4 linked regions of the Homo sapiens genome follow. The protein of the gene in region 2 purifies or fractionates together with the protein of the main gene of each other region. This does not show direct contact. Each region holds a gene or a part of one and is shown on either strand. Other genes may lie near its edges.

Region 1 (6,746 bases), on a different chromosome or scaffold from region 2:
ACACACACCATTTCACCATGAAAGCAAATCCTACTGGATGTAGATAAGTGGTTATCTTCAGTGATCGGCATTTTGTGGAACTCTCTGTCAATAGATTCTCAGTGCTATCACCCAAATGCCACACTTACTTTTTCCCTTTTAGCGTCTTTGTTTTGAAGTGCAGGAGTGAATAATGACATAACCATCACACTATGCAGAGAAACACATTCTTAATGCTGAACACATCTGCTTGCATGCAACCTGCATGTCACTTGTGCTTTCATTGTTAAACCTGTGAAGTAGCAAGAGGCAATTTGTAAACCTGTCTTTTAATGACTATGTACAGTCTGTATCCTGCATGCAAGAGGAAATGAATGACACAAATTCCTGTGCTCTGCTGAGATGAGGACGAAGTTCAATATTGCTAGATCTCAAAAAAATGGGAAAGACAAATCTGATCGTCCATTTTTAATGGCATTTTGTGAAACCATCAATTGAAGCATAAGACACAATTCTTTGTAAAATGGCATTTGTATGCAGGTTCTTTAAAATCACTACATCTCAGAGTATAATTATTTCACTGTACAGAGAAGAAGCCTCTTCTTCAGTGCTGTCATTTCACAGACAGCCTCCAAGTTCTTAATTCAAATGCAACAAGCCAAAAAACTGCTATCCTTCTGGAATGAGTTTTTCTGTTTAATGGATAACATAAGGCCCCAAATCCAATTTCTCATGCATGTGGTTTAGGTGCAACAAAAGTGCTTCTTATTTTGACTTTCAAATTAAGTCACTTTGTATTTAATGATATTTAATTCACACCATTTATACAAAGTGTGCAATATTCCTAGAGTCAGAGCTCTGATAGCCCAAAGGCGACTTTTTCCTAGTCTTTAATGTTTGGTTTTCTACTGCTGTGACTCAGTGGTAGAGACCCTAATGAATGAGTTCACTCTCAGCAACAGCAGAGCAACTCACAAGGGCAGATATCTCCCCCTAGGAAGTGAAAATTGATGGTGGCAGGGAGGGAGCAAAAAATCATACTCTTGTTATGTATAAAACACAGATATACACACAGTACCAACAGGTATACAGTATATCTGCGGTATTAAAATTTATGTGCAAGGGATGATTAGGGAAACGGTTTTGGGGTAGTGATGATTATAAACAGGTTGCAAGACACTGGTTTCACCACACAAAAGGGGGGAGCTTCTAGAGTGACCACAAGGAAATGAACCCCAATTTTTCTCTTTTCCTACAGAACTGAGGGAGGGATCACAAAAGGGGCCACAATTGGGGTCCTCCTCGACTTAAATAGAAAAAACTTGACATTTTTTATCAACGATGAACAACAAGGTCCCATAGCATTTGATAACGTGGAGGGCCTCTTCTTCCCTGCGGTCAGCCTGAACAGGAACGTGCAGGTAAGCACCCTGCCCCTGAGGTTAAACAGCTGTTGCTGGCTACCGGTTCAAAGGCTGCCCAGGGCCGTTCAATCCAACCGAAGAGAGGGAAGCTGACAGCGTAAGGCCCAGACCAAGATATGAAGGAGAGGAGGAGAGAAAGGGATCAGCACTGGCAACTTATTTTATTCCACGCCAAGCATAAGCACCTTCTTTATACTTGGACGCAGACTAGTTAATAGCACATAGGAAACTAGAATTCTCTTCATGGTTGGCTAATGATCATCTCTGTAGCTCTAGTTTCACCTCTAAATAGAAACGAAAGCCTTTAACCAACTGGCATGAAAACAAATAGAATGACTTAACAAAGCTCAGGAGTGCCTGAGAAGAGGTGAGGGTGTAAGACTGAAGCATTAGTATCATTATCAGAAAATCTGAGCATCTTCTCTGCACTCTTGTTTGGCTCTGTTAGGTCCTAAGGGGTAGAAAACATAGTCCCTACCTACAACTTAGTCAATTATTATTTATTATAGAATAAAACAACAGCTTCTCATTTATTCATTCAGCAAATATCTATAGAATGCCTTTAATGTGCCAGGCACAGTTATAAGTGTCTGGGATACATCAGTGAAAAAAAAAAACAAAAAAACAGATAAAAATCTTGCCTTCATAGAACTTACATCTTAGTGATAGGAGACAGACAATAAATAATAAGCATAATTACAATGTTAATCAGATGGTGTGTCAGAAGGTGTTTAGTGCAGTGGAGAAAAGACCAAGGGCCCATGAGTGGTGTGGTTGGGAAGGGCAGCCACAGTATTGCGTAGGTAGGGCTTATCGCAGTTACCGGTGAGCTGAGCCTTAAAGGAGTGAGGGAGTGAGTTGCGTGGAGCCTTCCAGACAGAGGGAACAGCCTGTGCACAGTTTCTAAGGCATGAGGGGCCTTGCATGGGCAAGGAATGGTGGAGAGACTCTTGGGCTGGGGCCTGGAAGGGGGACCAGAGCCATGCATGGGGGAAGAGCTGTGCCCTGCCAGCCGCTGTCAGGACTTAGGGTTTCACTTCCCTCCTGAGCTGGGCATCTCATTAACAACTATGAGCCTCATTCCACAAATGGTTGTCTTGAGATAAGGCTTGAGAATTACAGGTGACTTTTGCCCTATCCAGAACCAGCCTTGGAAACTATTTATCAAAATTCATTGTTGTGTTTCAGTATGTGCAGTAACATTGATTGCAAACTAGCAGCCCCTGCCCTTCTCCCTGCAAGGAGATGGGGTTTTCTAGAAGGCTGGAATCTAATCTTTCAGAGTTCAGCCTCTACACTTTAAGAAAGAAAACCATAAATTACCCTAGAAGCGAGTCTCAGAAAAACCCCATTCAAGGTTTTTCACATTAGCCATTTCCCTTTCAAAGAATATTATACTAGATGCTCTTCAGGGGTTTTCAGGACCTTCTGATTATCTATTGATAAAGACTCTTGGGCTGGAGAAGACAGGGATAAGAACTGCATGAAATGGTTCTAGTTTTATCCATAGCTATCCATTGAGGTTTGGGGATACACGGAAATTGGTAAAATAGTATAATGCCATGTTTTTTCACAACTGGCAATCATCTATGCGACCCCAGAAAGAAATGTTTGCCCTAATTACAATAACTAGTGGACAAGTAATAAGGGAAGTGCTGTCTCTGCGAATCTGTCCTCTATCCATGGATTTGGCAGTGGTCACTGTGGTGTGGCCAGTAGGCTCCTCTATCTGAAAACCAAGGCCTGTGTCTTCAGTTATAAGGAACACAATCTCCCCGGAATCCTTTAAAAGAGGCAGGTGACTAAGAACCATATAATCAAATGTCACCAGGATTTGAGAGCCCACCATGGTGAGCAGCCTGTTACCATAGGCAGGATTCTTCTTGAATTCCGTTTAATGCCTGCTAGCCTAGATGTTTAAAGCGAAGCAAACAGAACACTTTTTGAGTTAGGGACACACCCACGGTACACTGTGTAAAGGGACAGGGGGATGCACGATGCCTCTCAGGACTCACAGTCTCATTCCCCAGGTCACGCTGCACACCGGGCTCCCAGTCCCCGACTTCTACTCCAGCAGAGCATCAATAGCCTAAGGATGTGCCGTGGAGGCGCCAGCTGCCTGTTCTTACCTCCGCCTGCGAGAGCCACAGCAAGGAGCTCAGCCAGCCGTGGTGGGGTGCAGAGTTGGCAGGAGTGGGAGAAGGAGGAGAGAAAAGCTGGTCCTCTGCAGTCTTTACACCCACAGCTCTGCCCTTTTCCCTTTCAACCTCTCCTCCGCTGTCATGCCTGCTTCCGCTTCCATGTCCAACAATTCTAACCAACAAAGGACCTAGACAGCCCACCAAGTCACTTGGTTCCCACTCCCAGATTTTGCTTTTATTTAACTTAATTTTTTATGTAGGTGAGTTATATTTTCTTTCTTTTCTGATCAGGTTATTGGTGACTTACTGGACTGGCACCGCCAGGAGAAAATTCTCCTGCTAACTTTTTTTCTTAAGCTTTCTGTCAAACAATGAGGTTGTAGGGGGAGGTAGGGAAGAATGAGCTGAATTTGTAGCATACAGCTTACCTGCTAGAATGTTCTTACCCTCTTACCTCTCCTGTAGCGTTAGCTCTGCAGAGCTAAGCTTTGGGAGAATGAATCTATCACTGAGAAGTTTTACTACTCATTGAAGCACAAAAATATCCGCTACACAGGTTCACATCAGGGTAGGATCGTTAGGATGGCTCTATAATTAGGATAGGCCAGAACCCTGGCCACTGTATAAAATTGGAAAGTCTCTAAGACACAGGCAAACCAGGGGACTTAATGATTTGGTTCGTTTATTTAATAAAAGCTTTTAATTGAGAACCTACTATTGACCAGGCACTGTTCAAGACACTAGAACATTATGTTCTAGACACTGTGGGGACACAGTGGTGAACAGACAGGCATGGTCTCTGCCCTTCGGAGCTTATATTCCAGTAGGAGAAAAAGCAAAAATAAAATAATTATAAATGGTCATATGTACTAGAAAGGAAATGGGCAAGGGTCAAAGAGACTCATGGGCAAGATCTTTCAGGCTTCCTAGAATGATGCTAAAAATCCACACATTCTGGCCATAGCACCAGAAATGTACCAACTCAATGCCTTTTCAGCTGCACTATTTAATTATGGTACCTGCTGCCACTCATCACAGAGCCCTTCTTGGTAGAAATGATGTCAGCATTCTTATTTGCTGATGCTGCTATGATACCACGCCTTAAAAATTGACAGTTGAAAAAAAAAAGAGTGACCAGAGGGCAAAGGACCCATTCTCAGTAATGGGAGATCTTGAGTTGCAGTCCACAGCATTCACATTCTCAGGATAAACATGCTTGTCTCCATATATACTATCTGTGCCTGTTATGAATGAAAAATCCATCCACTCTGCTGCCATTCACAGCCTAATTTTCTGGAGTAGTCCAAACAATGTTTGGAAAAACATGGGACTGTATGTCATTACTATGACTGATAGCAGAATAATAATGCATCTTACTTCTATATAGAGATAGACTTACATAGGTTACCCTTGAAATTCATTAGTTTGTCATAAAGTTTTAGGAAAGGTAGGACCCGGAAAGAAGTTCTAATTAGTTGTCTAAATATTTTTCAGTGAGCCAAGAAATTCACCATGAAAAAACAAGAATAACAAATAGAAGGGAAGAGATAGGATGGGAAAGCTAACAAATTAAAGTTTTGGCAAAAAGGAATATATGTAAATAGCTAATTATTTACTTTTGTGCTTACTTTATTTAGATTATTTCTATCAGTTACAATCTTTTTCTAGTTAAGTGTACCTAATTTATGGAATGGGTGCTATCCTGTTTATGTGTGTCTTGGTTTTTCTTGGCTACAGAAAAACTGTTGCAGGGCAACACTAGTTTGATATTTGATTTACTCTCCAATGAGACTCAATGGCTGGGCCGTGGTAGACTCATAGTTCCTCTTGTTCTTTATTAAATTCATCCTGCTAATTAGATTTCTAGTGACTTGTAACATGTAGTTTACACTGAATTGCAATTACAGATGCATACAACTACTATACTAGAAAAAATTGTCATTTCTGATGTGCCAATAAATGATTTTTATGAGAGAATAAAATGTCTCTAGAATTTCTTAGTTTTTATCTATTGCGGATGACAATTCACCTTTGTCAGAGCGATGTTTCTTCAGGAAGATCTCATTGGAAAGGCCCCCAGAGCTCTGGAGAGCATGTGTTCTTTCCCCTGTTTCCTTGGGCATGTGGCACTGCCTTTTGGTTTTACTCATATGAAATTTAACCTGATGTGAAATGTCCAGTGGAGATGTCTGGGGTCTGCTTCCAAGTATTGGGGATTTACTTCTGTTTTTTTTTTTTTTTTTTAGACGGAATCTCACTCTGTCACCAGGCTGGAGTGCAGTGGCGCAATGTTGGCCCAGTGCAATCTCCCCTCCTGGGTTCAAGCAATTCTCCTGCCTCAGCCTCCCGGGTAGCTGGGACTACAGGCACACACCACCACGCCCAGCTAATTTTTTTGTATTTTTATTAGAGACGGGGTTTCACCATGTTGGCCAGGATGGTCTTGATCTCTTGACCTTGTGATCCACCCGTCTCGGCCTCCCAAAGTGCTGGGATTACAGGCGTGAGCCTGGCCTACTTTATTTTTAAAAAGCCACACATTTGGCTTGCAATTTTATAGTACTGCAAAACAGAGTGTCACTGACTTTTTCAAACCTAGCTCCTTTAACATTTCTTTGAATGGCAAAACAATAATTACAACATTATTCATCTACCTAACATTGTTGTTAGCCACTAAAAAAACACTTTGTTTCTTGATTAAAGGAAAAACATTACCTACAAATATATGGTCTGAGTTATAACCTCACAGAGTGGAATAGTACACAGTTGGTAGCTGCTGCTGCTCTCCGTTGATTCCAGTTTCTACACATTCCTCTTTCTGTCACGGGATCCTTGGGGTGTCACTTCTCCAGCCAAAAACCTCTGTGGCTGGCAGCGCCTTCTGCCTGAGTACTGCCTGCACCTACTGGGCTCATTCTGCCCACTCGGCCTGGCAGGCTGCACTCGGCTCACACTACCAGCCTGGATCCCACACCTGCTAAGGGTGAGTCAGGTGTGGAGTGGCAAGGGGTGTGTGGGCAAGTGAGCTCTGGGTCTGGCCACTGCACACAGCCAGGCAGGCCAGCTGCTGTGGCAGGGCAGGCAGCTCCAGGCACCAGCAAAGTTGTTGGCTCTGTAAGAGGCTATGGCTGGACCAGATGTACTGCACACAGCTTCCACTACAGGAACATGCATCTGGCTGAAGGGTATGTGGTGGCACCCG
Region 2 (6,139 bases):
ATGGTAGATAGAATGATCTTTTTCAAGTGTAAATTATATAATATTACTATTAGGTCTAGAAAAATCTGAGATCCTTGTGTTGATTACACTTGTGTGAACTTCAGACTTCTTTCCATGGCTTACAAAACCTTACATCTAGCCCTTGCTGACCTTTCTTAACCTCATCTCATATCTCACTGCTCTTTTCTGACTATGCCCCAGCTGGATTGTTATTTTTCTTTGCACAGAGTTAGTCAGACCCTCCTCAGGGTCTTTGTACTATTTGTTTCCTATGCCTGGAATTATACCCTCCCTTGTACTCATTCAGATCTTCAAGTAAATTTCACCTTTCAGAAAGGTCTTCGCTGACTACCCAATCTAAAGAAGCACCCCTTGACAGTCTCTGTCTCATTTCATTGCCCTTTTAAGTCTCTGCCCAGAACTTAACATTATCTAATATTTGTATTTATCTGCTTTCTCCATTAGAATGTGAGTTGCAAAACTCTATTCCCGTGTTGTGTGAATTTAGACTGTATCTCTAGCTTATAGTATAGTATAGCATTATCTTAAAGTCATGGCAAAATATTCAAGAATACAGTTGCCTTTAATTTGACTTTATCTGCCAGTCTGTAATACATTGCCCTGTATGGACCCAAGTTCAAGAAAGCAATACCTTAACTCATCTTCTTATTCCTTAAGCTAGATTCAGCTCCCAGTTACAAATTAGATTCTTCAAGTACATAGTTGAGTTTTCCCTGATCTGTTGACATTGAGTTAAGTTACCTTCTGAGGATAAAAGATTTGATAAAGGGCTGGGCATGGTGGCTCACACCTGTAATTCCAACACTTTGGGAGGCCCAGGGGGGCGGATCACTGGAGGTCAGGAATTTGAGACCAGCCTCGCCAACATAGCAAAACCACCCCCTCTACTAAAAATACAAAAATTAACCGAGTGTGGTGGTGCACACCTGTAATCCCAGCTACTCAGGAGGCTAAGGCACAAGAATCGCTTGAAACTGGGAGGTGGAGATTGCAGTGAGCCAGGATCATGCCACTGCACTCCAGCCTGGGTGACAGAGTGAAACTCTGTCTCAAAAGAGAAAAGATTTGATAAAGGTTCTAGTTTGGTTTAGCTTTATTGTAGCATGATTCTTAACTATTAAAATATTCTCCAGTCAGCCAAATGGATTGCCTAGGTAGTCATTACTACTTAACACATGAGAGAAATGTATAATATAGAGCTTGATACCTGACCAGAAGACTAAGATTATGCATCTCATTTTCAATAGTTAATTTGTGAGTTGATGGTAACTGTATTTTTTTGTACTTTAATTAAATAAAAGTGTGTTTTATGTAACTGGCTACAGAAGTTTCTGAAATTTTAGTGGGTTAGGGTTAAAGGGGAAAATTACAACTTAACAGTGATGAAAGGTATGTGAGTGGATCCATGAGATGGAGAAAAACAATACAAGACACTGAAATATAAGCTATCTTTTACCGTAAAGCTGGAAAAAGTTTTAAAATAGCTTCTTTATTTTGAGCTACAGCATGGACAGCACCAACAACACAGTACTCTGCAAGGATTTCTTTTTTTGTATTTTACAGCTAGTCCAAATTTCTCTTTAGTATTGTTAACATACTCTTTTGTACTATTCACTGTCATTTCAATATTGTTGATGCTCTCTCCTTGTTCCTCTACTAAAAGAGATATCTGAATGAAAAGATCCCTTAAATCCTTTATTTGGTTCTCCAAATTAACAAGTTCCTTGTGTCTCTGTTCAATCTCTGAAAGTTGTGCTTTAGTGATATTGATTTCTGTAAGTAAGCTTTCATTAAAAACTTCCCATTTTCCTTGATGAAGCATATCATTTACATCTTCTTCAGACATCTCTTTTCCAGCAACTTCAAGCTGACGTAAAATAAATGTCTTGCACTTCTCTTGCTTTGCTGCTATTGTGTCATTGTATATAAACATGATTTGCTGAAAATGGCGGAACATTGCAGCATGCTGAGATTTAAGTATCCTTGTGACCACTGAAGATGGACCATTTTCAACCTCTGACTTTTTAACTTCTTTAACTAAATCATTCAAACTTCTGTTGATGTATTCTGCCTGAATTTTTATCTCCTTTGTAATGGTAGACTCTCTCTTAAGTAGACTAAACCTTCTCATTGAAGCCACCAGACTTTTCTGTTGCTGCCCAAATTTTTGAACATTATCTGCCAAATTGTTAATACTTTCCTGTAGTTTTTGGATTTCATGTAGGTGTCTCTCAGCTACAGGCTCTCTTTCATAAATAACAGCTTGCTGTAGAAACACCCCTTGTTCCTCTGTTTCTGTAGTTGATACATGACTGTCTCTAGAGAGTTCAATTTCCTTTGTTCTCTGCTTTAGTTCTTGAAGTCGGTCTTTCATCTTCCCTTTCCTCCTAAGAAGCAAAAATTTTTGTGTTGAACAAGTAGAAATTTGGTATTTTTCCCCAGTAGCAGTTGACTTCACATAACTGTCTATATCCCAGCAAAAGTTCTCCTAGTTTTCTCAAATGAGGTTAAAAAGTTAGAAAAAACCAATGAGTTTCCTCATAAAAACCATTTAAATAGGGAAAGAAATATAAAATAATTTGTAAGTTACTTTGCATGTGAGTGCTATTTAGTTGTGTGCAATAGCTGAGAAAGCAGTGATGCAGACACAGTTGGTCAAAAATATTTGTCACATGATAGTTTTTTTTTGTAATAAAGAATGCTTTTGACTATACCTTCAACCTATAGGATTAGTCTTCAGATGCCAAAAATGCCCTTGTTACTAAAGATACTGTTTCCGGTTAATTTGGCCAATGTAATATTAAAAAATACTCATTTTGCTAAATATGCATCATTCAGTTAAAACCATTGTAGTGACAGTACAGATTTTATATGAGAACGTTAAGCTATATGGATAATATTGAATTTATTTTAAATTTTCCGAAGCCTCTGAATTAACGTATTACTTGGCATAATGTTTTTTCTAGCTGTTGCATATATGTGAAAACATTGGTTTGATTATGCTGATTTCTCATTCTTAGCATTCTTTTGCAAAGATATCCAGACTGTCTTAGAACAAAATTTATATCAATTTGTGTTAGGTGATACTTTTATAAACATGAGAATATATTTATATACAATCTTATTTTAGGAGTAATAATGATATTGACACTTATCACATGCTGTGTTGGTAGTTATCTGTAAGAATCAAATTGATGTACATAATTTATATTTAATGATATAGATATATATGAAATGACATACATACATATAAAATGAAGGGAATAAAAAGCAGTAAAATGCTATTATCACAGAGCAACTTGATTTTAGAAATGTCTTTCAAGACATTTTTGAAGATAAGAAGAGGCTGTTAGGGAGTACAGATAGCTCATTGGACCACATATAATATTAATATCAACCAGAAAAAAAAGGTCTCTGAATGTGATGCTGTTATGCTGTAGGACTCAGTGTTTGATATGTTTATGGAAATATTTCTATTAATCTGGATGTTGTCATAGGAGGCATACTTAACAAATGTGTAGATGGTGTAAAATTTGGAGGAATCTTTAGTATGTTGAAGTACAGGGTAGGGATTCAAATATTAAAATAGTGTGGAACTTTATACTAAAAATAACAAAAATATATTTAACAGGAATAGATTTAAAATATTTCATCTAGCTATAAGAAAAATATTTTCGTATCTACAGAGTAGAAGACCCTTGGGTTCACAATAGTGTCTATGAAAGTATTGGAGATTTTAATTAATTAAGCTTTCTTTTTTTTTTTTTTGGAGATGGAGTCTTGCTCTGATGCCCCGGCTGGCATGCAGTGGTGCGACCTCAGCTCACTGCAACTTCTGCCTCCCGGGTTTAAGTGATTCTCCTGCCTCAGCCTCCTGAGTAGCTGGGATTACAGGTGCCTGCCACCATGCCCGGCTAATTTTTGTATTTTTGGTAGAGACAGGGTTTCACCATATTGGCCAGGCTGGTCTCAAACTCCTGACCTCGTGATCCGCCCACCTTGGCCTCCCAAAGTGCTGGGATTACAGGTGTGAGCCACCGCTCCCAGCCTAATTAAGCTTTCTGTCAGAACCATCAGAATAGTCACTATGCTTTTATAAATAATAGTCTGATGTATGGATAGACTAAACTCTGCCAACTCTATGCTATTCAGAGCAAATTGCAAGGGTAAGGGGAACTCAATAAACTTCTGAGCATATTTTGAGATGGAAGTTCTTAAGTTAGGAATTACCAGACTAGCATGGAAAGGATGAGATTGGAAAACCATACCAAATGGAGACTCATTGAAATAAATGGTAATATTTGTCCTGTAAAAGAGAAGATGTAGGGTGTGTATACAGCTGTCTTCTAAACAAAGGTCTGTGTATGCAAGTGAGATTAGACTTACTTGGCATAACTCCAAAGGGCAGTGGGTGGAAATTACATGGAAAGAGGTTTGATTCAATATAAAGAAGACTTTTCAAACAAATATTGCTTTCCCAAGATGAAATGAGCTGCTTCATGAGGTGCTGAGTTTGCCATCACTGGACATTTTCAAGATGTTCTGGAATGATGACTCCAGGCAGGCATGTTACAGAAATGATGCCTGTTTTGGGTAAAAGGTTAAACCAATGTCCTGGTAATATTCCTTTGGTTTTAAAGGACTGGTATTTTGTGAAATAGTCATTGAAGTCTTATATGTATATAAGTTTTAAATGCTGTAATATATATTTAACATTTTCTGTCCTTGAGGAATTTATAATTTAGGGTGAGAAGGACAATATACAATTTAAAAGATAAACGGGATAATTTTAGGTTTTGATACAATAATCAGGCAGGGTCTCTAAGCAGATATTTGAGATGTGAGACTGAATGTTGAGAAGCCAGGCAGATGAAGAGCCGAGGGAGTGTATTGTAGGTCTAGGAGTTGGGTTGCCAAGGCAGTGAATGAGACTGATATGTTTTAGGAACAGAGTTATTGCATAAGAACAAAGTGAATGTAGATAGAAAGGAATGAGAGGAGTAACATGGGAAGAATGAAGTAGAAAGGTAGGCATGGACCACATCATAAAGGACTTGTGGGCCAAAGGAAGGAGTTTAGATTTTATTCTAGGTGCAGTAGAAGACAGTTAAAAGATAAATAGGATATTGACATGATTTGTATATATTTTTTCATTTTGATATGTAATTTAAAAAAATTTTAAACTGATACAGGGGTGTCCCTATGTTGTCCAGGCCGGTCTTGAACTCCTGGGCTCAAGCCATCTGTTCGCCTTGTCCTCCCAGAGTGCTAAGATTACAGGCATAAGCCACCATGCCTGGCCCTGATTTATATTTTTAAAAGATGTTGTTGCTTTCTATATAGAGAATAGTTTCCTGGGGAGGGGGTGGGAGTAGTTCACAGAAGAGACTTTAATGATAGAGATGGAGTAAATGGGAACCATCAGGATATATTTTTGAAACTAGAAGCAATAGGACTTGATGATTTTAACCCATCAGCACTTAACACAATCATTTCTTGAGACACTTTGAAGAAAAGTATTTCTCCTGTTTTTTTTCTCTTACCTTTTTGGCTCTTCCTTTATCACTATTTTCTTTTTCCTGGCTACTCCTTATCTCCCCCACCTGTAAATATTGGAAGATTTTAGACTGAGTCTCATTTTTATCCATCATCATTTTTTAGTCTCATGGCATTAAATGCTGTTTGTAAGCTGATGACCCAAATTTGTATCTCCAGTTTAGGTTGCTCTTAAAAAACTGCCTACCTGACAGCTGCATTTGAATGCCTCTATCCAAAATGAGCTCATAATCTTCCTGTGAACCCGTAAACTGCCCCATCTCTCTTCTGGCAACTCTATTTTTCCAGTTGCTCAGACCAGAGACTCAGAAGTCTTTTTTTGTTTGTTTTTTGAGACCGAGTCTCACTCTGTCCCCTAGGCCGGAGTGCAGTGGTGTGGTCTCGGCTCACTGCAACCTCCGCCGTCCGGGTTCAAGCAATTCTCCTGCCTCAGCCTCCCGAGTGGCTGGGACTACAGGCATGTGCCACCACGCCCAGCTAATTTTTGTATTTTTATTAACGACAGGGTTTCACCATGTTGGCCAGGCTGGTCGCAAACTCCTGATCTCAGGCGATCCGCCCT
Region 3 (8,406 bases), on a different chromosome or scaffold from region 2:
AACCTGTATTAGAGATGTTAGAACAGAAGATGGATTATTCCTCTAAATTGAAATATAGACATCTATTTTCATGATTAATCAAATTTATACATGGCAGAACCAGGTGCTAAGATAACTGACTTCAAAAGACAGGAAGGCCAAGTTCCCTCTGGAGGTTCCCTACTGCTACTGCTAGAATACACCAAGGAGTGGATCGTCAGTCCTGGTTGCCACTCCATTGAGGACTATCTGGATGGTATCCTCTAGACAAAACGGAGACTAGTGGTCAGCCCTATATAATTAGTTCCATTTTGGGTCTAGAGCCTGTTGAAAGGCAGTGATAACTCCTTGAATACACAGACTACTTTACTTTGGAAAATGTTCACAGTCTTAGAAAAGTATCTGTGTGAAACCATGTGGAACAGATGACCAGGCAAGAGCTTGGATCCTCGTGAACAGACTGCTCTTTGAATTATTAATGACTTTTTTTTTTTTTTTTTGAGATAAGATCTGGCTCTATTGCCCAGGCTGGAGTGCAGTGGAGTGATCTCAGCTCTCTGCAACCTCTGCCTCCTGGGCTGAAGACATCCTCCCCACCTCAGCCTCCCGAGTAGCTGGGACTATAGGCACGCACCACCATGCCCAACTAATTTTCCTATTTTTTTTGTAGAGATGGGGTTTTGCCATGTTGCCCAGGCTAGTCTTGAACTTGTGAGCTCAAGCAATCTGCCCGTCTTGGACTCCCAAAGTGCTGGGATTACAGGTGAGAGCCACTGTGCCTGGCCAATGACTTTTTTTTAAATGGACAATCAATATTGTCCCTTGCTTATCTGCACAGATCTTATGCTAGAAGCAGTTTTGCTTTTTAAATTAAGACAGTGGTCAAAGTATCATAGTTAATGTATTAATTACCACCCCGGAGGCAATGGTGAATAGAGAAGCAAGGACTTTGAATTCAAAGGTATGAACCTGAACTTAAAGTTATTTAATCTTTCTGAAACTCAGTTTATTCATGTGCAAAATAAATTGTTGATAATTAAATAGAATAATGCATGTAAAGCACGCTGTCCAAAATTCTGGGTGTTTAATATATATGACAGTTATTACTATAAGAAAAAGTAACATATTTAAATAAGACTAAGGTAGTGAATAATTTATATTTATCCCAGGGAAATAATGAGACACACAACAAAAACAACAACAACATTTCAGCAAACATTTGATGAAAAAGACAAAATAGTTATATTAATAGCGTCAGAGGGCACATATAGGTGGCTAAAGTGGTAGAAGAGAAGAATGATGATAGTGACAATAATGACAATTATTAGCAGCTACCATTTAATGAGTCCTTACTTGCCCAAGGTCAATTAAAATGTTAGAATTGAGATGTGAACTTTGTCTCTCTGGCTCCAAGGCCAAACTCAATCTTCTACAACACAGTTCCTCTAGTGTCATGTGGGGACGAATCGGTACAAGAAATGCAGAAAAGGGAAGGCAGGGACAGGAAAGAGCCCCTATAATTAAAGTTGTAATAGAGAGTTGAAGCATTTTTTTCCCCTCAGAGACCAATGAGGTCACATAGAATGCTTTTTGACAAGGCAGAACCAGAAGTACAGAAATGAAGTCTGAAGAGGAAGAGAATGTTTTCCCCTTCCGAAAGGCATACTACTTAACAGTAGCCCTCAGTCTGAACTGCTCCTAAGTTGCTACCTAAGGGCTGAAAATTGACACCAACTGTTTGGGGCTGTTTTGGAACTGCTTAACTAGGCAAGGAAAGGGTGCAGAGAAGTTCCACTACAGAGGTAACAGGAGCCTGATTCCAATAGTCAGTGGGTCTCAGTTTCCAAAAACTTCTATGTTTGAGTACTGTCTCTTTGATGTCTGAAGAGAAGAATCACATGACATGCTTACTTTCCATCAGAGTTTACTTCAAGGTGATATGCACATGGGAAGAAATTACTGACATCAATTAACTTAGAATCATGGGGAGATTCTGCCTGGCAGAACCTCGGTTGCCCTCCTCAAATAGGAAGTGTTTCCCATGGGATAAAGCAGGTAATAGGTTGGTCCAAGAGGAACAAAGTTGTCATTTGAGTGTTCTCTTCCTAACCAAAACTTGGGTGACAACAACATCAAAGAAAAAAAAATCATCTGTTACAAAGCAAAATATAACCATAAACCATCATACAACTTAAACATATAAAATTAGGCATCATATCTTACTGTGGTATACTATAGACAACAACAACAACATACATTTGACCTATGTCTAAATTTGAGTAAAGAAACATCCTAGTTATTAAACACATAATAGTGGTTTTTAAGCTTATAATTAAGAGGTGTCAATATATACATTTCCTTTCGGATGGTATGGGCATTCAGATAAATTGTAATCAACTGAGTGATAGAATAAAGATAGCAGATCTTCAGTACATGCTTCTTGTGGCATTTTTTCCCACTCACTAGAACACTGTTCAAATTTAAGAGCTCATTTAGTACTTCTCTTCTGTATTTTTCCTACTTCTCTAGTTTACTGAAAGCTACAATTGCAGCTACTCAATATATAAAGGCCACTAAGAAATAACATGTGGTAGGAACTCTATTTGGATGAGTTATCAAAGTATTTCATACTTCATTAAAAATCTATAAAAGTAATTACTAGGTCATCAGCAAATACTTTTTTTCTTCCAAAGGAACTTCAAATCATGTCTCACAGAATTGTCTCACAAAAAATCCTTGTTGCAATATCTTGCCTGCCCACCCTCACTGTAATTGGTATGGTTATTGACATAGTCATAAAGGTTTGAAATATGGTTGTTAATTAAGTAGCAGTGAATGTGTGGAATTTAATATAGAAAAGGGTAAGAAATAAGAAGTTAACATTTATTTTCCAGAGCAATTTTATCTACTGAATAAAGCTAGCAAATAGCTCAGTATAAATAACTATGTTAAATGGACTCAATGGAAAGATTTTTATTTTTGTTTTTATTTCTCCTGCCCCAGGAAGTTTTAGTGTTATTTTGTTTCATAAAAAATTATATATTTAGTATGAAAACTTATAGCTTACTTCTTGTAAACCACAAGGTAAGTCCATCTCTTATTTATTATCATCTTCATTATCTATTGTACTCAGAAGCAACAATTCCTCTTGAGTTCTGAGTGAATGTGTTCATGCCAAATAAATCTCTCATGTTCCCTCCTCCCAACCCTACACCTTATACCTTGTCTTCTAAAATTAGAAACAAGTTACATGATGTTGAAAAGATTCCAACTTAACTTTGATCATAACAATCAATACCTGGATTGTTTGGGAGAGGAATTTTTAGTTTCCTTAAGTAGTAGGAGGTTATTATCTAAAGAAGACTGGATACAGTCAAAGGTATTTAAAAGCAACAGAGTTTACTCAGATACATGCCTGATCAATCAGAATTAATCACATTTATACTTGCTGAGAGTGAAAATTTTACTTAATTAGAAGGACAGTTGACAAGGAAAATCTAGGTTTCCATATTTCAAATACATGTTAAAGATACACTTTAGAAAGCACTTATATCAGATATGCATCCTTTTCTTTTTAATTAAAGCATCCATTTTATTGTATATCTGCATTTAGAGCATGAATAATCCCAGCATTTAATTACTGACTCCTAAGTCCCGAGACCTAGTAAATAATTCAATTTTTCTGCCCACGTATGCATATTAGGATAATGAGATTAATAACAATGATACAAATAGAGAGATTGATTAGTACAAATATAGCTACTTAACTATGACACATAAGCACAAAGGAGAATACAAACTCTGATTCAGACATTCCTCACATACTTTACGGGCAGAGGAGAAAGAAAAATCTTAAACTATTCAATTATCACTGGTAGTTAATACTGTTCTTCTGCAATTCCTGAAGGAAAATTTGTGTTTATATGATAAAAGGGAATAAAAGAACAGTTTCATGGCTAGGCACGGTGGCTCACACCTGTAATCCCAACACTTCAGGAGGCCGAGGTGGGTGGATTGCTTGAGCCCAGGAGTTCTAGACCAGCCTGGGCAACATGGTGAAACCATAAAAATTTAAAAACATAAAAAATTAGGTGCAGCGCACCAGCATGGCACATGTATACGTGTGTAACTAACCTGCACAATGTGCACATGTACCCTAAAACTTAAAGTATAAGAAAAAAAAAAAATTAGCCAGGCGTAGTGGTGCATGCCTGTAGTCCCAGCTACTTGGGGAGGCTGAGGTGGAAGGATTGCTTGAGCCAGGGAGGTGGAGGTTGTACTGAGCCAAGGTCGTGCCACTGCACTCCAGCCAGGACTCAAAAAGAAAAATAAAGGTTTCATATTAAAGAAAAGCTGACTAATAGAAGCCTTAGGAAAGAATAACCTATGTAGTATTTCTTTCAATGGTTGAGTATGAATTAGAAGATCTCTAGCCTAAGAAGTGTCTGAAACAAAATCAACAGATCTCACCACATATAACTGGGTTGCATATAAGAAAGCTCCCAGAATACTCTGAGAATAAAGACATACACACACATATATTTTAATGAGAATAAAGAATAACAAATGATAATGAGGAGCAGAGAGTATGTCCTATGAGAGCATGTAGGGAATTAGTTTATTTTAGCAGTTGGCAATATATATCATTCAATTAACTGTCCTCCTATCTCTGAGACCTGATAAGGCAGCACCAAAATCTCTTGAAAAATAGTAGTGCTGAGTCGATATAAGGCAACATACACAGAAGGCACATGGTAAATATTCAGTATTGGTGCTAGGCAATAAGGACAGAGATGAAGGCTAGAGAATAGTTATCATTACCCCTGTGGGTATGCTGGCTATTCCAACTTAAACTATCTTTCCAAAAATTTAGATTATTTAGAAACTTGAATGAAATTTTCTCAAAAGCTATATTTTACAAATGATAATTAGGTTTTTAGATTAGCATAAATACAAATGGAAAACTCAAACGATAGCTGCAGAAAACTAAGATTTCAAATATACCTTCGGTGATAAAAATACAAATAAAATTTTGCATTTTATCTACCATTTATCAGGTACACATGTCTCAGGCACTAGCAGATGCTACACATACTCTTCTTTTTTTTTTTTTTTTTTTTTTTTTTTTAAGAAAGGCAGACTGCCACATGCAGCACTTCATTTGGATGTGTCTGGAATCTTGGAAGCTTGACTACCCTATGTTCTCCTACAAATGGACTTGAGAGCTTGTCTGGAGGTTCCAGCAGGGAAGCGCAGCTACTCGTATACCCTTGACCAAAGACTGGTCCTCTTCTAGTGGAGATGGTTGTCCTCTTTGACTGAGAACACAGCTTTGGGAGGCATGAACATGGAGTGGTGAGGGAGGAAGGGGACAGCCACTTAGCCAGCCAGATCAGCCGAATCAACCCTGGCGATTAATGGGGTGACAGATGTCACAGCCAGATCGCCCTCACATTCCATACTTTGTTTTATGTAATATTCAATAACCATGAGGGCTGGTGTTACCCCCATTTTATAGATGAGAAAATCAATGCTTAGAGTAGTTAGGTAGCTTGGCAGGAAATCACAAGATTAGGAAGTGTGAAAGCCTGCACTCAACCCCAGGCTTTCCTACTTTCATAGTCAGCTCTTAATAATACAGCTTGCTCTTTTGCAAGACCTATCATAAGAAAGAAGCTGTTTGCTAGGAATGTTTTATATGGCCTGGGAGAAACAGAGTTTAGATGCAGGGGTATTCAATGTCTGGGCTACTACAATGTTTTATGGGGAAATCAGGACAGAATACCTCAAAATGGGACCTTACCAGATACACCAAATTTTATGCTTTCAGTAACTATACAGGGAAGGTATTTCTCTTGGACAACTACTTCCAGAAATTATAAATTGGGAAAAAAGGAATCAACCTCATCACAACATTTAAACTGAGATTTGTTTGGGCAATATCCTTTTGGCTTGAAAGTCTCCAAGGATCCCATTCCCAAACACTGCCTTTTGAGTGTCCTGTTGCCAAGTCTATTCTGGAATTACTGGAAGGACCCACTCAGAGAATGTCTATGGCCTAAAACATGAGACATAATCTGGGAGACATCAATAAGATCTACAATGTCATGGAATGCTGCAAAGTGAGTATTATCTACTCTTTGGAAAGTTCATCTCTTTAGAGAACTTATAGAAAATAAATTAGTATGTGACATTCTCAAACTTACAGACTCAAGAAAAATAATGTAAAGATTTTTTTAAAGTCTGAGAAGTTGGCTGGGTGCAGTGGCTCATGCCTGTAATCCCAGCACTGTGGGAGGCTGAGGTGGGCAGATCACCTGAGCTCAGGAGTTCGAGACAGGCCTGGCCAACATGGTGAAACCCCATCTCTACTAAGAATACAAAAATTAGCTGGGCGTGGTGGCAGGTGCCTGTAATCCCAGCTACTCAGGAGGCTGAGGCAGGAGAATCGCTTGAACATGGGAGGCAGAAGTTGCAACAAGCTGAGATCGTGCCACTGCACTCCAGCCTGGGTGACAATAGCAAAACTCCATCTCAAAAAAAAAAAAAAAGTCTCAGAAGTACAAAAGAGTTGTAAAGTTTTTTTTTTTAAGTCTAAGGAGAAACCTGAAAATGAATATGAATTTTCATATTTGTATGGGAATTATTTTATATATAGATTATGTCACTCCTTTAACAAACAATACATTTAATTCTCTTTCTTAAGAGACAGGGTCTCATTCTGTCACCCAGGCTGGAGTGCAATGGTATAACCATAACTCACTGCAGCCTCGAACTCATGGGTGCAAGCAGCCCTCCTGCCTCAACCTCCCAAGTAGCTGGAACTACAGGTGCATGCCATTGATCCTAGATAATTTTTAAATTTTGTTTTTAGAGCTGGCATCTTGAACTACTACTGGCCTCGGGTGATCCTCCCACTTTGGCCTCCCAAAGTACTAGGATTACAGACATGAGCCACCACACATGGTCAAATTTAATTCTTTTAAGGACAAAAACAGAACTTACCTTTGGAAATCAGCAACCAACTTGACATCAGCTATGACAATCTTATGCTCAATAATCATGTGCTTCAGAAGTTTGTCTTGTTCAGCCACAGGAAAATGTTCTTCACAGAAAATACAAGGCACAGATGGAGAACCTTCTAAAGTGGTGGTGCCACCTGGACTTTCTGGCAGGGAAAGCGGCTCCAGGATACAATCCTTACTGTCTGGAATAGACCAAAAAAAAAAAAAAAAAAAGAAAGAAAGAAAAGCTGAAACCAACTCTTCATATGGATGATTTCCCACCTCCTGCATTAAAAAGATCCTAAAGATATTTACATGTCTCCAAAAAGAAAAATACATAGTGCTGGAGAGTAGGATACTTTATTATCATTTTAAACAGTGTTTGTAGCCCAGAGGCAGGGAGTATTGCAAAGCAGCTCAAACCCCTCATTTGCTTGCTTGAATGGGGGAAACCCATTTGTCAGGGCAGCTGTTCAAGCCTTCTTCTTGGACACTGGCCAATGGCAGCAATTCCCGGGGTACTTGCAAGGGGGAAGGCTGCAACACTCTGGGTTAAGGTTCTAAGGCTCAATTGTGACCTATGGCTAAGAATCATCACACCAAGGGAATAAATGGTATACATTAAGGCGACAGATGATGCCAGGCCTGTCTGTTAAGTTGCTTCCTGTCGCATCTGCAAACTCTTTCCTGTTTCTGATTATTTGTCACAAACAAGAACAAAGCTCTCACGCTGGGTAGACACAGTATGTGCTGGGTGGCCCTCATGGCAATTTTCTATGTTGACTTATGTTTATCATTTGCCTATTACACAAGTATGCATTACAATTCAGGCTTCTGTGAACAAATAGATGACTGCTCGATCACTAGACATATGTGATGTGGTAAACATTTTTCCTGGCTATATTATTCCTCTTCCTAACATCTTCTACAGCATCTTTAAGAGCTGAAGTATGTGTAAAGTCTATGTCTCTCATTTCAGAGCCTAAAACCACAGCCAGTCGTGACAGTAGCCCCCTTTAGTCTGCCAGAGTGGACGTCTACACCTGTCACCTTATACAGGCTATTTAGTAGTTAGTAATCAGGAAACTGGGGTAAAGAAACTAGGGTAAGGCCTCTGGCATTTGCAGAAAGTCAGGCAACCTTCAGAAAGAAGAGAACCTTCTTCAGAAAGAAAGACACAAAAACTAAGCCACAGACAAGTTTTCAGAATTAGGTTAATATTAGTTCTCCCGTTAAAGTTTCCTATTTTTTTCCCTTACTTTATCTTCTTTTTAAAGGTTTTCTTAATTTATGAATTAATTGAATCAGTCACTGGTACACTGGTGACCATGGCTTGAGAATTATGTAAGTGCGGTGGCTCACATCTGTAATCCCAGAGCTTTGGGAGGCCGAGGTGGGCGGATCATGAGGTTAGGAGTTTGAG
Region 4 (8,628 bases), on a different chromosome or scaffold from region 2:
GTGAAGTGCCTGCCCCCAGGTGTCACGTGGAGGGAAGCATCAAAGGCGGTCTCACCTCCTTCATGTCTTCATAGAAGAGGTAGAGAACAGGGTGGGTGCGGCTCAGCTCCCACCACTCTTGCACGTGCTGGTACCAGGACCCATAGGACACTGGAGAAGCGGGCAGGGAGTGCCGACACAGGGTTGCTGTGCGTTGTAGCCACCACCCCTTAGCTCCACACCTTCCTTCCTCCCATCAAGCCCACCTTCTCCAGCCATGAACTTCTCCAGGAAGCTTTCCCAGGTCCCAGGGTGAGGGTACACTTTGGCCATGTGGTAGAAGTGGTAGTAGGAAACCGCCACATCCTTTGCGTTGCGGGCAACATAGACCACCTGCAGGGGCAGAAGACTCAACCCCAGCACCATCACCACACAGCCTGCCCCAGGCCAGCTCATCTCTTGGTTTGGCAAAGGAGGAAGCTGAGGCTTAGAGGCTGACTTGTTTGAGATCTCACGGCACAGGTAGGGCCAAGTCAGGATCTGAACCCTGCTCAAAAGCCAAAGTCCTGCCTGGTCCCTGAGACCATCATATTCTATAGTAATATAATCTGCATCAATGCGTCACACCCCGATCTGGAGCAAGGCATGCTCCACCAGGCATGTTCCCACCACCACCAAATTTTGTGGGCCTGTGAGGACCCACCCTCTACCTTTCTTAGGTCTACCCGGAAGAGTCTCATGTTTTTGGTCATCAGAGCAAAAGGCAGACAGTCCCCCCCGTGGAAGATGAGACAAGTCTGGAGGAAGTGAGGCGACTCTCCCAGAAGAACAGGACCAAAGCTGGGCTGAGCCGGGGCCTCCTTCCCTGGATTCACATGCCCCACACCTGGACCTTTGCTTTTTTCTTTTTGTTGTGGTTTTTTTTTTTTTTTGGGGGGGGGGACTCTAGGTCTCAAAAAAAAGAGAAAAGAGAAAAAAGACCTTGGGCTTTCTTTTTTCCTGTTGCCCAGGTTGGAGTGCACTGGAGTGAGAATAGCTCACTGCAACGTTGACCTCCCAGGCTCAAGCAATCCTCCAACCTTAGACTTTTGAGTAGCTGGGACTATAGCGCTATGCCACCATGCCCTGCTGATTATTTGCATCTTTTATAGAGATGGAGTCTCCCCATGTTTCCTGGGCTGGTCTGGAACTCCTGAGCTCAAGCGGTCCACCCATCTTGGCCTCCCAAAATGCTGGCATTACAGCGGTGAGCCACCCAGGTGGCAAACCTTTTAAAATATTTATTTGTTTTGTTTGAAACAATGTCTCGTTGTGTCTCCCAGGCTGGAGTGCAGTGGCACAATCTCGGCTCACTGCAACCACCGCCTCCCAGGTGCAAGCTATTCTCCTGCCTCAGCCTCCCGAGTAGCTGGGATTACTGGCGCCTGCCCCAACGCCTGGCTAATTTTTGTATTTTTAGTAGAGACGGGGTTTCTCCATGTTGGCCAGGCTGATCTCAAACTCCTAACCTTGGGTGATCTGCCCACCTCGACCTCCGAAAGTGCTGGTATTACAGGCGTGAGCCACAACAGGCCCAGCCCCCTGCCACCTGCCGCTTTTTTTTTTTTTTTTTTTTTTTTTTTGAGACAGAGTTTTGCTCTTGTTTCCCAGGCTGCAGTGCAATGGTGAGGTCTCGGCTGACTACAACCTCTGCCTCCCAGCTTCAAGCAATTCTCCTGCTTCAGCCTCCCAAGTAGCTGGGATTACAGATGCCTGCCACCATGCCCGGCTAATTTTTTTGTATTTTTAGTAGAGATGGGGTTTTGCCATGTTGGCCAGGCTGATCTCAAACTCCTAGTCTCAGGTGATCCACCTGCCTCAGCCTCTTCAAGTGCTGGAATTACAGGTGTGAGCCACCGCACTGGTGGGACACTCTTTCTATTCATCGTTTTTTGAGACAGTGTTTCTCTGTCACCCAGCCTGGAGTGCACTGGTGTGATCATAGCTCACTGTAGCCTTAAACTCCTAGGCTCAGATGATCCTCCCACCTCAGCCTCCTGAGTAGCTGGTATTACAGGCACACACCACTATGCACAGCTAAGTTTTTTTTTTGGAAGAGACTTATCTGGAACTTCTGGCTTCAAGGGATCTTCCCACCTCAGCCTCCCAAAGTACTGAGATTGCGGGTGTGAACCACTGTGCCCAGTCTCACCTTGACCTTCTGATCCAACAGAGTCTGGGGGAGCAGAGCCAGGGGCAGGTGTGTCTTCAGGAGTCGTGGGGCTGGTGTGTTTTTCAGAGTCTCCATCCCTGAGCAGTGGGTCAGGGAAGGTCTGGTGAGCTGAAGCCCCAGCCCTGTCTTCCTCCACTCCCCTTGCACCCAGGACACACACACCTGAGGGAATCCCTGGGACTTTGAACTCAAGGAAGGGCACCCGCATGAAGATGGGAGCTCGGTGACACTTTTCCAGGTCACCGCCCTGGTAGATCATGTCCAGAATCTGGCTCACCCAGGTGGTGCCTGGAGAGGGAGGGAGATGGGAGGTGAGCAGGCTGAGGTGAGCATGACCTCGCTGGCCAAGGTGGGGACTGCCACCTGGGAGAGGGTGGGTGGCCCTCCTCACCTACCGGACTTGGGGTAGGTGCTGATGAGCAGGTCATCAGGCCGGGCCTGGAAGCTCTGCAGGGGCCCCAGTGCCTCTGCAAAGTACTTGATGAGCGGGACCCCCTTCACGTACTCCAGTGGCGGGCGAGAGATGTCCTGGATCAGCTCCATGTTCCTGCGTCAGGGGCCAGAGCCAGGCCCGTTCCCTTACCACCATCACAACAGCAAGAAAGTGGAATTCTTGCTTTCAGGGAAGTCACTGAGGCCTAGGGAGGCTGAGTGACTTGCCCGCACTCACAAGGCCAGTCAGTGGCGGGGCTGGGGCTGAAAACCAGGTCGGGCTCTAATGTGGTGGTTCCCCAGCCTGGCCTCACCTTTCATTCACCTGCGGAGCTGTTCAAAATCCCAGGGCCTGGGCCATGGTGCAGACCAGTGAAAGCACCCTCGTGGCGCGGGGCCCAGATGTCAGGGTGTGTGAAGGTCTCCAGGAGAGTCCAGCTGCACTGAGGAACCTCTAGGACCTTCCTGTGCTGTCTTCCTGCCAGCCAGCGCCCTTTGTCTCACCATTTCCTGCTGGGACCCCCAGCCTCCACCCAGTAGGCTCCTCTCCCCGATGTTCCCCTCCTTGAGCCCCTCGGCCCCTCACATGTGGCAACTCCTAGGCTGGCCAGGCCTGTGATCCACTTGCCCGGCCACAGTCCATCTGGGCTCCAGGACAAACAGCCCATTGAGCAACTGAGCTGGTATTGGGGGCCAGAGCCTGATGTGGGAATGAGCAAAACTGTGATGACTCAGCAAAAGGAGGATCCTGGGCAGGGTGGCTCCCACCTGTAATCCCAGACCCTAGGGAGGCTGAGGCCAGAATTTGGAGACCAATCTGGGCAGCATTGGAAGACCCCATCTCTAAAAATCTTTTAAAAATATTTTTTAAAACTATCCAGGCAGGATGGTGAGGGTCTGTAGTCCTAGCTACTGAGGCAGGAGAATCACTTGAGCCCAGGAATTCAAGGCTGCAGTGGCCAGGATCCCACAGCACTCCAGCCTCGGTGACAGCAAGACCTGGCCTCCCCGGAAAAAAAAAAAAGGAAGGGAGGGGGATTCAGGCCGGCCGGGGTTGTCTGAAATGGGATATCCATGGGGAGAGGGCAGGGATAGCAGAGGCCTCGGCTTCTGGAATGTTGGAGCCACAAGCTGAGCAGGGTGAGGGCGTCCTGGGCCATTCCGGTGTGTCACTCACCTGAGCTCTTGGGAACCTGGCCTTGTGCCCTCCTCGCCCGCAGTGGCTGAGTGTGGGTGTTGTGTGGGGAATGCAGGGGTGTTGTCTGTGCTGAGGGTTTCTTAGGTCAGTGTGGGAGGGATCTGGAGCCGGGGCTGGACTTAGATTTGCTTCCGGAAGGAAGGGGTAGGGTTGGGGGTGGGGGAGCTTCTCTATTACCCTCCTTAGTTTGCCAGCTGGAGACAAGCTTAAAGTGATCTCCAAAGCCACGACTGGGTTTGGTGTGTAGAAAACAGAAGAATGAAAGGGGAAAGGGCCCAATGGTGGGTTTGTTTTTGTGGGTTTTTTTTTTTGAGCTGTCACTGGGCTCCTGACCTGCCCCTGAACTCCAAAAGACAAGCTTTCTCTAATTGACCCAGGCAAGAGAGGGGAGGGATTGGAGGAGAAAGATGGGATAGGCAGGCCCTGGAAAGGTCACCTACCTGCTGGCTCCAGGCCAGTCTTGAAGGTGCCAGGGGTCCTGGCCCAGTGCAACCCACAGGCCTCCAGCAGCCCATGCACTCCAGGCTCTGACCACAAGGCCAGTCTGGAGTGATGCGTGTGGGCAGAGTGAAGGGGCAGGGGTGGAGCAGAGCATGGATCCATAGAACAAGAAAGAACAAGGACACTGCAGTCCCATTGCCCTGGGAGCCAGCCCCAGCTTCATGGCTCCCTGGGGACCTCACAGAACATCGATAGAAGATCCTAGAAGAACCACAGCCCCTGGCAGGTACTTTTCTTTCCATGGGTTTGAAGGAGGCTCCACAGACAGAGGCCAGAGGAGGTTGAGGCTTGGAAGCCACAGGGCCCCGTGGAAGGAGTGCATCCCCCCACCCTCCTCGTTCTTTGTCCTCACTATTTAAAGTCCAGGGTCAAGCTGGGCACGAGACAGGTAAACAACCATCTGAGTAAAGGTGAGTCTCCCAAGCCTTCCCAGGGTTGCGTGAGCTCAGAGGCAAGCGGGGAAAACTGAGGCATGGGATTTCCAGGCAGAGGAGAGGCTGCTCCCCTGCTAGGGCCACAGGCCCCTCCTCCCTCCTCTGTGCCCCTGAGGAATCCCCATGACTGGCAGGTCCTCCGGCTACTAGCTCCACCCCTGCCCTCAGCAACCTTCAGGAGGCCCTCTTGACTGAGACTTTGTATTGCACTCTAGTGAAAACCAGCCGGACCAGCAGGGGGTGGCACAGAAAAGAGGCGAGAATGTGAGATTAATAGAGTGCTAGCAAGACAACAGAAAATCCCAGGCAGCAGTTTCACATGACCAGAAGAAGGAAACTTGAAATAGCTGCATGTGCCAAGGGCCAATAAGTCCCTGAAAAATAGGATGAGGACCAAGCTGGCTGCGACCAACCAGAAGCAACATGGCGCTGTATTTGATGTAGGTTTCACCTAGGATCTCACTGTACAATCAGTAACATATGAAACCGTACACCCACCAGTGCCAAGACGGCTCCAGGAACACCTGTATTTGGGTGTAAATTGTGGCACCACGGTCTTGAGAAATCTTTACCTTTTCCTGGAATCTTCATGAATATACCCCTCTTTAGTTGAAGAAGCCCATAAAGGTCAGCCCCACACCTTGTAGGGCATGAGACACTCTCTTGAGGACCCCCACGTTCCTCTTCTTCAGTGAGTCCCTTTACTCTGCAGGAAATCTGCCTACGTTCATGACTTTTGCACTTGTCCTTAAATTGTTTCTGGCTAAGGTGCCAAGAGCCTGGAGAAGGCCTGGCACGGTGGCTCACTCCTGTAATCCCAGCACTTTGGGAGGCCGAGGCAGGCAGACCACCTGAAGTCGGGAGTTTGAGACCAGCCTGACCAACATGGAGAAACCTTGTCTCTACTAAAAATAGAAAATTAGTCAAGCCTGGTGGCACACGCCTGTAATCCCAGCTACTTGGGAGGCTGAGGCAGGAGAATCGCTTGAACCCGGGAGGCGGAGGTTGCGGTGAGCCAAGATCACGCCATTGCACTCCAGCCTGGGCAACAAGAGTGAAACTCGGTCTCAAAAAAACAAAACAAAACAAAAAAAAGCGTGGAAACGGGCTGAGGTCGATGTCCCACCGGTCTTTGATGACCTCCCCTAGGCCACCAGTATCTGGAGGGGATTAGGGACACTGAGCTCCAGCAGGGCTATCCAGTGTGCCTGCAGAAACAAGGTTGGTCACAGGCAGCCCAGGACAGGGAGTGGGGTAGGGAGGCTGGGGCCAAAGCCCACTCACGTCTTCTAATTCCGAGTCTTCCACTATTTCCCCCGTGCTCATCCATCACAGCCAGATCAGGTCACCCAAAGCAGTGACGCCTCACAGCTACCAAGGCATGGGGCCAGAGAGAGAGACAGAGTCAGGCATCACAAGCCCCCTCCAGGCTCAGCCCTGAATACCAAGATCAGGACACGGCTGCCCCGGCCTGGATTGCACAACTGGGCACCCTCTTCCCAAAGCTGGACCAGGCTGGGGCCGGGGGACTGCACTCAGCTAGGGCATTGGCCCTCTAGGGGCAGAAGCTGCCCTGGTTCTTCCGGAAGGAACTCCTCTCACAGGCAGATCACGTGGGCTCTTAGCCAACAGCCAGGGTTGGGGCAACACAAGGGCCCCGCTTCATCCTGTCCCAGGCAGCAGGCAGGTAAGAGACAAGGAGGGAGAGGCAGCTGGCAGCAACCCCTCTATGCAGCAGGCACTGTTCCGGGCATTACACAGCTCCATCCCGTGAGGCAGAGGTGACTGTTATTTGCATCTTACAGATGAGGAAATGGAGGTGGGGGTTTAAAATCCTTGCCCCTGGGACTAAGCTGGTGCAGGTCCTGGGAGCATCAGCAGTGATTGATTGAGTCACAGCCTCACCACTGCAGCCAGACCTGAACTTCCTCACAGCTCAGCAACACCCAGCAGGTCACTGAATGTCCCCAGGGCAAGTCCTCTACTCACTCACTATTAGCGGGTGCTCAGTAGAAGGCACCCGTTTTCCATTATTTTATTAACTATTTCTTGGCTATCGTCTCTGTGCAGGACTTTGTTCTACAGCAGTGACAAGAGCTGCCCTCGGGCAATGTAGTGCAAAGGTTGGGGTGGGAGAGACTAACGAGAGTCATAAAGCACCTAGCCGGTGAGATAGTAAGTATTCAGGTAAAGAAGCAGACGGGGAAGTACACAAGAGGTGCAATTTTATTTTATATTTTTAGAGACAGTTTCTTGCTCTTTTGCCCAGGCTATAGTGCAGTGGAGCGATCAGAGCTCACTGCAGCCTCCAACTCCTGGGACCAAGCGATCCTCCCACCTCAGCCTCCCCCCGTAGCTGGGACTACAGGCATATGCCACCATGCCCGGCTTCTCAGAGCTGCAATTTTAAATCGGGAGATAGAGAAGACCTCCCTGTGGAGGTGGCAGGTTATCAAGATAGGTGTAGAGAAGAACCTTCCAGTCAAAGGGAAAAGGCAGGTCCTGCTGTGCTCAGGAATGGCCAGAAATACTATCATCCCCATCTTAGAGACGGGGACAGGGCCGCAAAAGTGTCAGGGCGTTTCCTGGCTCCTCAACAAACAGCTGGATCCGAAGTGGTCTGGGGGATGAGCCGCCCTGCCTGGGGCGGACCTCCCCTGGAGCTCAAGGGCTCGCAGGGCGCACAGGCCTCTTGGGCCCCGGGTCCGGCTCAGGCTCGGGCTTGGTGCCAGCAAAGGGACCTGCGCGGTGCCCTGGGGCCGGGGAGGCCCGAAGGCCATCGCCCGTGCGGCGCGGCGCATAGAGGTCCCGGCGGAGGTCGGGGTGCAGCGGGAGTAGGAGGCGCGCCTATGGAGGGGGTTCCAGGCCCACTCCAACAGCGGCAGGATACGGAGGAGTTAGGGCGGCTCCAGGCAGGGGGGCGGACCCCAAGCCCTTGCCCGCCTGCCGCCGCCTGGTCTCCTTCCTTACCCGAAGGGTTGCCACGGCGGGCGGGAAGCCGTGCACGACGAGCACTTTCTCCCTGGGGAGGAGAACGGGGGTGTCCCTGTGAGCCCTGCCGCGCCCAACCGCGGGTCCCCTCCAATTCCACCCGAGAGCGGGGTCCTCACTGCCGGCTTCAGCCTAGCCCCAGGCCCTGCCCCTAAATGAAGTCACGCCCCCTGAACCTGCCCACCTCAGGCCGCGCCTCCAGCCCAGGTACCCACCTGTCCCCCCTCCTCTCCCTCCTGCGCTCCATCCGACCCCAGCATGCCCACCAAGACCCCTACGCTGGCCCGCATCCTGGATCATCACCTCCGCCCCAGCCAGCTCCTCCCCGGAGTTCCACCGCCAAGATTCCCAGGGCACTGTCTCCCCGTCATGCTCCTCCTCTGTGACAGTCCCGTCCCCACCCTGGACTCCCCACCCATGTCACAGGCATGCCCCTCCCTCTCATCAGGCTTGTGCCCAGCGGGGTCCGCCTCCTCCAGGAAGCCTTCCTCCTGGCACAGAGACCCTTCCGGTCTCACCAGGAGTGCAATGGCCCGATTTGGCTCACTGCAACCTCTGCCGCTGCCCCCTGCCCCATCTTTCAAGCAATTCTCCCGCCTCAGCCTTTCGAGTAGCTGTAATTACAGGCACGTGCCACCATGCCCGACTAATTTTTGTATTTCTATTACAGACGGGGTTTCACCATGTTGGTCAGGCTGGTCTCGAACTCCTGACCTCAAGTGATCCAACCGCTTTGGCCTCCCAATGTGTTGGGTTTACAGGCTTGAGCCACCGCGCCAGGCCTGGGCCCTGCCTTTTGTGTGGTCCCCATTGTGCTGCTGGACCTGACAAGCAGGGCTGACAGTGAACCCCATATAAACGTGGCCCTGATGACGGGGGTT

The links.
Region 1: the proteins of STX19 (region 2) and TRIM9 purify together in Homo sapiens (affinity purification with mass spectrometry; 3 studies listed by BioGRID and IntAct, with this or other methods). This does not show direct contact.
Region 3: the proteins of STX19 (region 2) and ZNF277 purify together in Homo sapiens (affinity purification with mass spectrometry; 3 studies listed by BioGRID and IntAct, with this or other methods). This does not show direct contact.
Region 4: the proteins of STX19 (region 2) and SULT1A2 purify together in Homo sapiens (affinity purification with mass spectrometry; 3 studies listed by BioGRID and IntAct, with this or other methods). This does not show direct contact.

Annotation. Positions count from the first base shown.
Region 1 is NC_000014.9:50,974,041-50,980,786, reverse strand, and holds the end of TRIM9 (E3 ubiquitin-protein ligase TRIM9), read left to right. Parts: intron 1-1,237; coding exon 1,238-1,400; coding exon of another isoform or gene 1,401-1,496; exon of another isoform or gene 1,497-3,424; intron 3,425-3,433; coding exon 3,434-3,496; 3' UTR 3,497-5,521; downstream 5,522-6,746. UniProt on the Homo sapiens protein: E3 ubiquitin-protein ligase which ubiquitinates itself in cooperation with an E2 enzyme UBE2D2/UBC4 and serves as a targeting signal for proteasomal degradation.
Region 2 is NC_000003.12:94,012,875-94,019,013, forward strand, and holds the end of STX19 (syntaxin-19), read right to left. Parts: intron 5,625-6,139; exon of another isoform or gene 5,565-5,624; intron 2,409-5,564; 5' UTR 2,396-2,408; coding exon 1,511-2,395; 3' UTR 1,491-1,510; downstream 1-1,490. UniProt on the Homo sapiens protein: Plays a role in endosomal trafficking of the epidermal growth factor receptor (EGFR).
Region 3 is NC_000007.14:112,285,653-112,294,058, reverse strand, and holds part of ZNF277 (zinc finger protein 277), read right to left. Parts: intron 7,187-8,406; coding exon 6,985-7,186; intron 5,435-6,984; exon of another isoform or gene 5,108-5,434; intron 1-5,107. UniProt on the Homo sapiens protein: Probable transcription factor. Involved in modulation of cellular senescence; represses transcription of the tumor suppressor gene INK4A/ARF, perhaps acting via the Polycomb group (PcG) complex PRC1.
Region 4 is NC_000016.10:28,593,197-28,601,824, forward strand, and holds the start of SULT1A2 (sulfotransferase 1A2), read right to left. Parts: upstream 3,855-8,628; 5' UTR 3,801-3,854; exon of another isoform or gene 2,938-3,800; intron 2,770-2,937; exon of another isoform or gene 2,739-2,769; 5' UTR 2,735-2,738; coding exon 2,587-2,734; intron 2,480-2,586; coding exon 2,354-2,479; coding exon of another isoform or gene 2,269-2,353; coding exon 2,171-2,268; intron 373-2,170; coding exon 246-372; intron 151-245; coding exon 56-150; intron 1-55. UniProt on the Homo sapiens protein: Sulfotransferase that utilizes 3'-phospho-5'-adenylyl sulfate (PAPS) as sulfonate donor to catalyze the sulfate conjugation of catecholamines, phenolic drugs and neurotransmitters. Is also responsible for the sulfonation and activation of minoxidil.